Regions from separate parts of the Homo sapiens genome. Here region 2 is linked to region 1. Evidence: fine-mapped expression QTL. A gene starts in region 1. The other region holds a variant in brackets. All regions are shown on one strand. Distances are between the middles of the regions. Region 1 holds the start of WNT2B (Wnt family member 2B). Region 2 overlaps CTTNBP2NL (CTTNBP2 N-terminal like).

Region 1 (2,500 bases):
AAGCCCAGGATTTTAAAAAGAATTTTACTTCTGACGGAGGGCCACAGTGCCCGCAGGGCCCGTACCTGCTATCCTGGGAGGTTTGAGGGTTGGGGTGGTGGGGAGAGGAGAGTCTCTTTCGGCAGACTGCACCTCCCCACCCCTTCCCTATTTACCACGCCCCCAGGCGCTGTGCGGGCGGAGGGAGGGTGAAGGAGCAGTGGGGAGGAGGCAGGGCGAGAAGACGAAGGAGGGAAAAAGCTCCAGGGCTTCCACTCTCTCGGCAGGACCCCCACCCTGGCCTCTGGTGCGGGAAAACCTCCCAGCTGTTTCTGATTCTTTCATACTCTCAGCCCCGCCCGAGAGGGTGGAGGACCGAGGCACAGAGGGGGAGCGGGGAGAGACTGAGCTCCGCTGAGCCCAGGAGTAAGGGGCGGGGAGTCCGCAGGTGCCCCCTTAGCGTCGGCAGTCGATTCCCGGTCCGTAAAGAAAAGCACCCGGGCCGGGCAGGCCGGGCAAGCAGGAGCCAGGTCTAAACGTGATGCATTGGGGGTGGGGGGTGCAGTGGCTCAGAAGAAGCAGGGGCGATGAGCTCTAGCTGAAAGCATCCCCTGCTAGAAGCCGACTGCCCACGGCGCTCCTGTAGGCAGTGTTGAAAAGGTAGTTAAGACCTCCAACTCCCGGTGGCAGGGACTCTACCCATTTCACAGAAGCGCAAGGATGGAGGAAATGAGTGCATCCTCCGTGCTCAGCGCCGGTGTCACTGTAGGTTGGGGACAGGAGGGAAGTGCCCGCATCCCCTTCCCGCTCCGCCAGCCTGGCCGTCACCCATAGAAGTGGGGCTGCTGAGTGAAGGGCGCTAGGACCCGGTGGCGCGGTGTCGGCAGGGACTGGGCGCTTGGGGCGCAGGAGGGAGCCGCGGCGTCCCGTCGCAGCGTGCGGGAGCAGGTGGGGGTGCAGCGCGGTGGCGCGCGGGAGCCCCGAGGGGCGGAGGCGGCTGCTACACCTAGGGCGTCGCGGAGCGCCCCGGGCTTGGCGCGGGCGGAGCCGCCCTAAGGGCCGCGCGTGTCCCCGGCCTCGGCCCCGCCCCGTCCCGTCCAATGAGAGCCCGCGGCCGAAGGGGCTGTCCGCACACTAGGCCCGCAGCTCCCTTCAGCGCCGCAGACCCCCTGACACCGCACCCGGTCCTCAGGCAGCGCGCCCCAGACCCCGGGTTCGGCACGCCGTCGTCGGCTTCCGGACATCGCAACTTGCGCCCCTCTCGGGGATCCTCCTCCCGGGCTCTGGACCCCAGGTGATCCTAGGTCCCCAGCCGCCGGCGAACACCATGGCCCCCCAGGGGGGTGAGGTAGGAGCAGCCTGAGTACCCCCAGAAGGTGCCCCGTCCACGCCCCTCCGGGCTGCGCGGCGGGAGTCTTCGGGGAGCTATGCTGAGACCGGGTGGTGCGGAGGAAGCTGCGCAGCTCCCGCTTCGGCGCGCCAGCGCCCCGGTCCCTGTGCCGTCGCCCGCGGCCCCCGACGGCTCCCGGGCTTCGGCCCGCCTAGGTCTTGCCTGCCTTCTGCTCCTGCTGCTGCTGACGCTGCCGGCCCGCGTAGACACGTCCTGGTGGTAAGTGTGGCTCTCAGGCTGGGCGGGTGAGGCGCTTGGTAGGAGAGGCCGGAGGCGCCTGGAGGGACTGGCTGCTCACGGGACCAGGCTGTTGCTTCGACGGGTTGGAGACGATTCGGGCAGGACTGTCACTGAAATCTGAAGTCGCGGGGTGGCGGGAGGGTGAGGCGCCGCGTCTTACACGACTGGTGAGAAAGGCGCTGGGCATTCGGAGCAAGGATGCCCGGTGGTCGCGGCTCCTTAGGCCTCCACGTGCTGTACCCCCTCTATTTCAGCTCAAGCCCCTTAGGGCAGAAGCTACCTTCCGAGTTTCCCTCAGGGTGAGTTCAAGGAACGAATAACCTTCCAGGGCCCGCAATAGCTTCGCCAGGGCCCCAATCGCCTAAGGTCGCCCTCTGAGAGGTGGAGAAAGGGGCAGCTCGCTAGTCTAGCCCACCCATACCACAGGAAGGCTTTGGTGAGGCAGCAGCACCCAGCCGAGGCTTAGAAATGGAATCGAGGCAAAATTTACCCCATTAACTCCCACAATTAAAACAAACAAAACGCATGGGTTTGCATTATCTAGGCATTTGTCTTCAGCCACCGTTTTGAGGATGTCACTTAGGAAACTTTGCCTCCCTCCCTTCTTCCTATTCTTTCCCATCTCCCATTTCTCCCCTCCAAGAGCCAGAGGGCTGCGGAGTCCCAAGATACTAAGAGACCCCCTCCCCAGATTTCTTGCAGGCCCTAGACTCCAGACACTTCACAAGAGGGCAGATGAGGCAAAAAGGCATTACAGATCCACTGGATGTCTCGTGTCTGTTCTTTTTAGAATCCTCCCTGCCCCCTACTCCTTGGATGGCACTCATCACCTTCCCGTAGGAGAAGGAGCTGCTTTCCCTTCTTCCCCACCATGGGGAGAGGGCAAAGCAG
Region 2 (3,016 bases), 51 kb before region 1:
CTCTTCCAGTGGGAGCTCACTGTCTCCCAGCAGCACTGCCTCCTCCTCTCTAACATCCTCTCCTTGCTCTTCGCCGGTACTCACTAAGCGTTTATTGGGGTCATCAGCTAGCAGCCCTGGCTACCAGTCATCGTACCAAGTAGGGATCAACCAACGGTTCCATGCAGCTCGCCACAAATTTCAGTCCCAAGCAGATCAGGACCAACAAGCCAGTGGCCTACAGAGCCCTCCATCCAGGGATTTATCCCCCACCCTCATAGACAACTCTGCCGCCAAGCAGCTGGCCCGAAACACAGTCACTCAGGTGCTCTCCAGATTCACTAGCCAACAAGGGCCAATCAAGCCAGTCTCTCCCAACAGCTCTCCCTTTGGCACAGACTATCGAAATCTAGCCAACACTGCCAATCCAAGAGGTGACACAAGCCATTCACCTACTCCAGGGAAAGTGTCCAGTCCCCTGAGCCCCCTGTCTCCAGGAATCAAGTCCCCAACCATCCCCAGAGCTGAGAGAGGAAACCCTCCACCCATCCCACCCAAGAAACCTGGCCTCACCCCTTCTCCATCTGCTACCACTCCATTGACCAAAACTCATTCCCAGGCAGCCTCTTTGACCACTGCAGAAGACCTTGCCAGCAGCTGCTCTTCCAATACTGTTGTAGCAAATGGTAAGGATGTTGAGTTACTTTTGCCTACCAGCAGCTAGTCCCTAGGAGGGAGTCTCCACGTTTGACATTCCATCAGATTTCGTCCAAAAGCTCAGTCAGACTTCTGAGTCAGATTATGTTATTTATTTTGATAGTAGCTGAAACCATCTGTATAATACATTTAGTATATTTCACCATTTTGTATTTTTTTAAGTAGAAACTGAGTAGTTTGGATTTTTATGGCTCACATCTTTTTACTGAAGCCAGAAAGGCACCTCAAAGATGTCTCAAGCTCAGCAGTCACCGTCATGTTGTGATGAAGAAAGCGAATCACCAGGTGGTGATTTGCTATCTATTTGAGAACTAGAATCACTCAACACTCATTTTGAATTATGCAGAAGTGGTTCATGCAGATTTTTATTCCAGATGAACATGTTTTAAAAGTGCCTGAAATATGACTGCCATATGAATGTGATTCTGCAGCAAAAAACACAAAATAGATCATTTAATTACAGAAAATGAGATCCTCTGTGAATTCTGAATGTTAAAAACCAACACTGCTTTTAATCCTCTTTTAATGTTTTAATACAAGCTTTGTGTTCTGAAACAAGGCTGCATAAGTAGAATGGGAATCCTTCTAAAGGTGGGTGTGAACTCACCACAAGCTGAGCTTTATAGAGCCCTTGAGAAACCCTCCTGAGCACTAAGCAGTTGGGGTGCTGATTTTCTTGTACTTTTGAAAAATTAAGTCACTCCCAGTTTCCTGCATAAGTTCTTGAACAGAATGAAATCACATCTCCATTCAAAAAATGTCTCAAGCATCTACTGTTGTGTAAGGAACTTCTGATTCTGATTGCTGTTACTTGAATAGGAAATGGTTACTCATTCTGTATAAAAGTTTTGCAAGAGAATGAATTTTTTATTCTGTAATCAAAAAGCAATAACTTGAAATTCACTCTGTAATATTATA[GGTCA/G]GTCAGAATTATACAAGTTTTACCAAATTGTTACACTTATTCTCCAAGCTGCCAGAACCTGGTATCTGTATCTGTAAAACCAAATTAACTTTTGCTTAAATGGGAAGTATACATATATCTGTATAGATACATTACCCCTTTACATGTTTAACATACACACACTTAAACACATAAATACTAGTGTGATTATATCTTTGGAGTTTGCAATATAGCATAAAGGACAAGTAGAACTGCACATTAAGATTACCTACCGAAGCAACTAGATGTGGCTGGGACACAATCAAAGGAGGAATTTTGTCCACAGGAAGGTGAGGAAATTCCAAATGAAGCCTAGATCTTCAGTATCATAAAAAGGCAGAGCTGGCCAGGCACAGTGGCTCATGCCTGTAATCTTATCACTTTGGGAGGCTGAGATGGGAGGATCTCTTGAGACCAGGTGTTCAAGACCAGCCTCATCAACATAGTGAGACCCCATCTCTATTAAAAAAATAAATAGGCAGAGCTAAACTAACCCCAGTGTCACAAAACTCAACTGGTCATATAAATGAGTGAAACAGGCCTCTCACACAAGCGATGTAAAACAGCTGGGAGCAGTGGGAGCTGTGGCAAACTAAAGTGCCCAAGCCGCATTTAAAAAGGGCATCTGTTCAGCTCCATCTGCTTGCTGCGGTGCAAGAATGCTAAACCAGGATTACCAGTTCTTCACATTTTTTGAAATCCAAATTTTCATGAGAAACATTCTCATTTTTAAATATCAAGAAGTGATTTTAAAATGTTTAAATGGTGCTGGTTAAACAAACACGTCTGCAGCTGGATTTAGCTTGCAAGCTGCCAAGTTGCAACCTCTTTCATTCTAGAAACTTCTGTCATTTTCATCATAGCAAGTCTATGCGGACAAAAGCCTCCAAACTTTCCAACTGTGTAGGCCAGTACAGCTGGCAAGGTTCATAGAATATAATGGCTATCCCCCTCTGCCAAATAAGACTATCCACAACCCAGCTCAGACACAGTGGTTATATGATTTTGTGTCCATACAGGAGAGGCCTTGGTGTCTTCACATACATTCTCTGAGCCAACATCTATCCAGCAGCCCTGACCTCCTGCTATAATTTAAGTCTATTTCCTTTTAATCTAATAAGAGTTGATAGTAAAAAGGCAGGTGATGGAAATCAGTGTATAAATCACAATGGAGTATATTGGCAACTCCACAGCTTATAGTTTGATAAAGGCAAATACATGAAAAATAAAAATGCTACTAATGCCCCAAGGTGTCTATCAAAATGATGTAGGGGGTATCTTAAACTGTCCAAGGCAATCATGCATTGAACTTTATTCCTATGCAGAGCCAAAACGAATAGTGTTGATAAAATAGCTAAACTTTCTAAACTGGAGAGGAGG

What was found. PIP is the estimated chance that this variant, and not a neighbour inherited with it, causes the effect.
Region 2: its variant is fine-mapped to the expression of WNT2B in fetal neocortex (Walker 2019, PIP 0.95).

The regions. Positions count from the first base shown.
Region 1 is chr1:112,507,857-112,510,356 of GRCh38, forward strand. WNT2B (Wnt family member 2B) reads left to right here and starts at 1,109. Exons shown (of 5, transcript NM_024494.3): 1 at 1,109-1,588. The coding sequence starts at 1,407. RefSeq lists enhancers at 377-920, 1,845-2,344 and silencers at 898-1,027, 1,038-1,147, 1,208-1,287, 1,348-1,457, 1,451-1,745.
Region 2 is chr1:112,456,710-112,459,725 of GRCh38, forward strand. CTTNBP2NL (CTTNBP2 N-terminal like) reads left to right here. Exons shown (of 6, transcript NM_018704.3): 6 at 1-3,016. The coding sequence ends at 703. Among named protein-coding and RNA genes, the nearest start is that of MIR4256, 3.6 kb to the right of the region's middle. The variant GGTCA/G (reference allele first, on the strand shown) is at 1,615.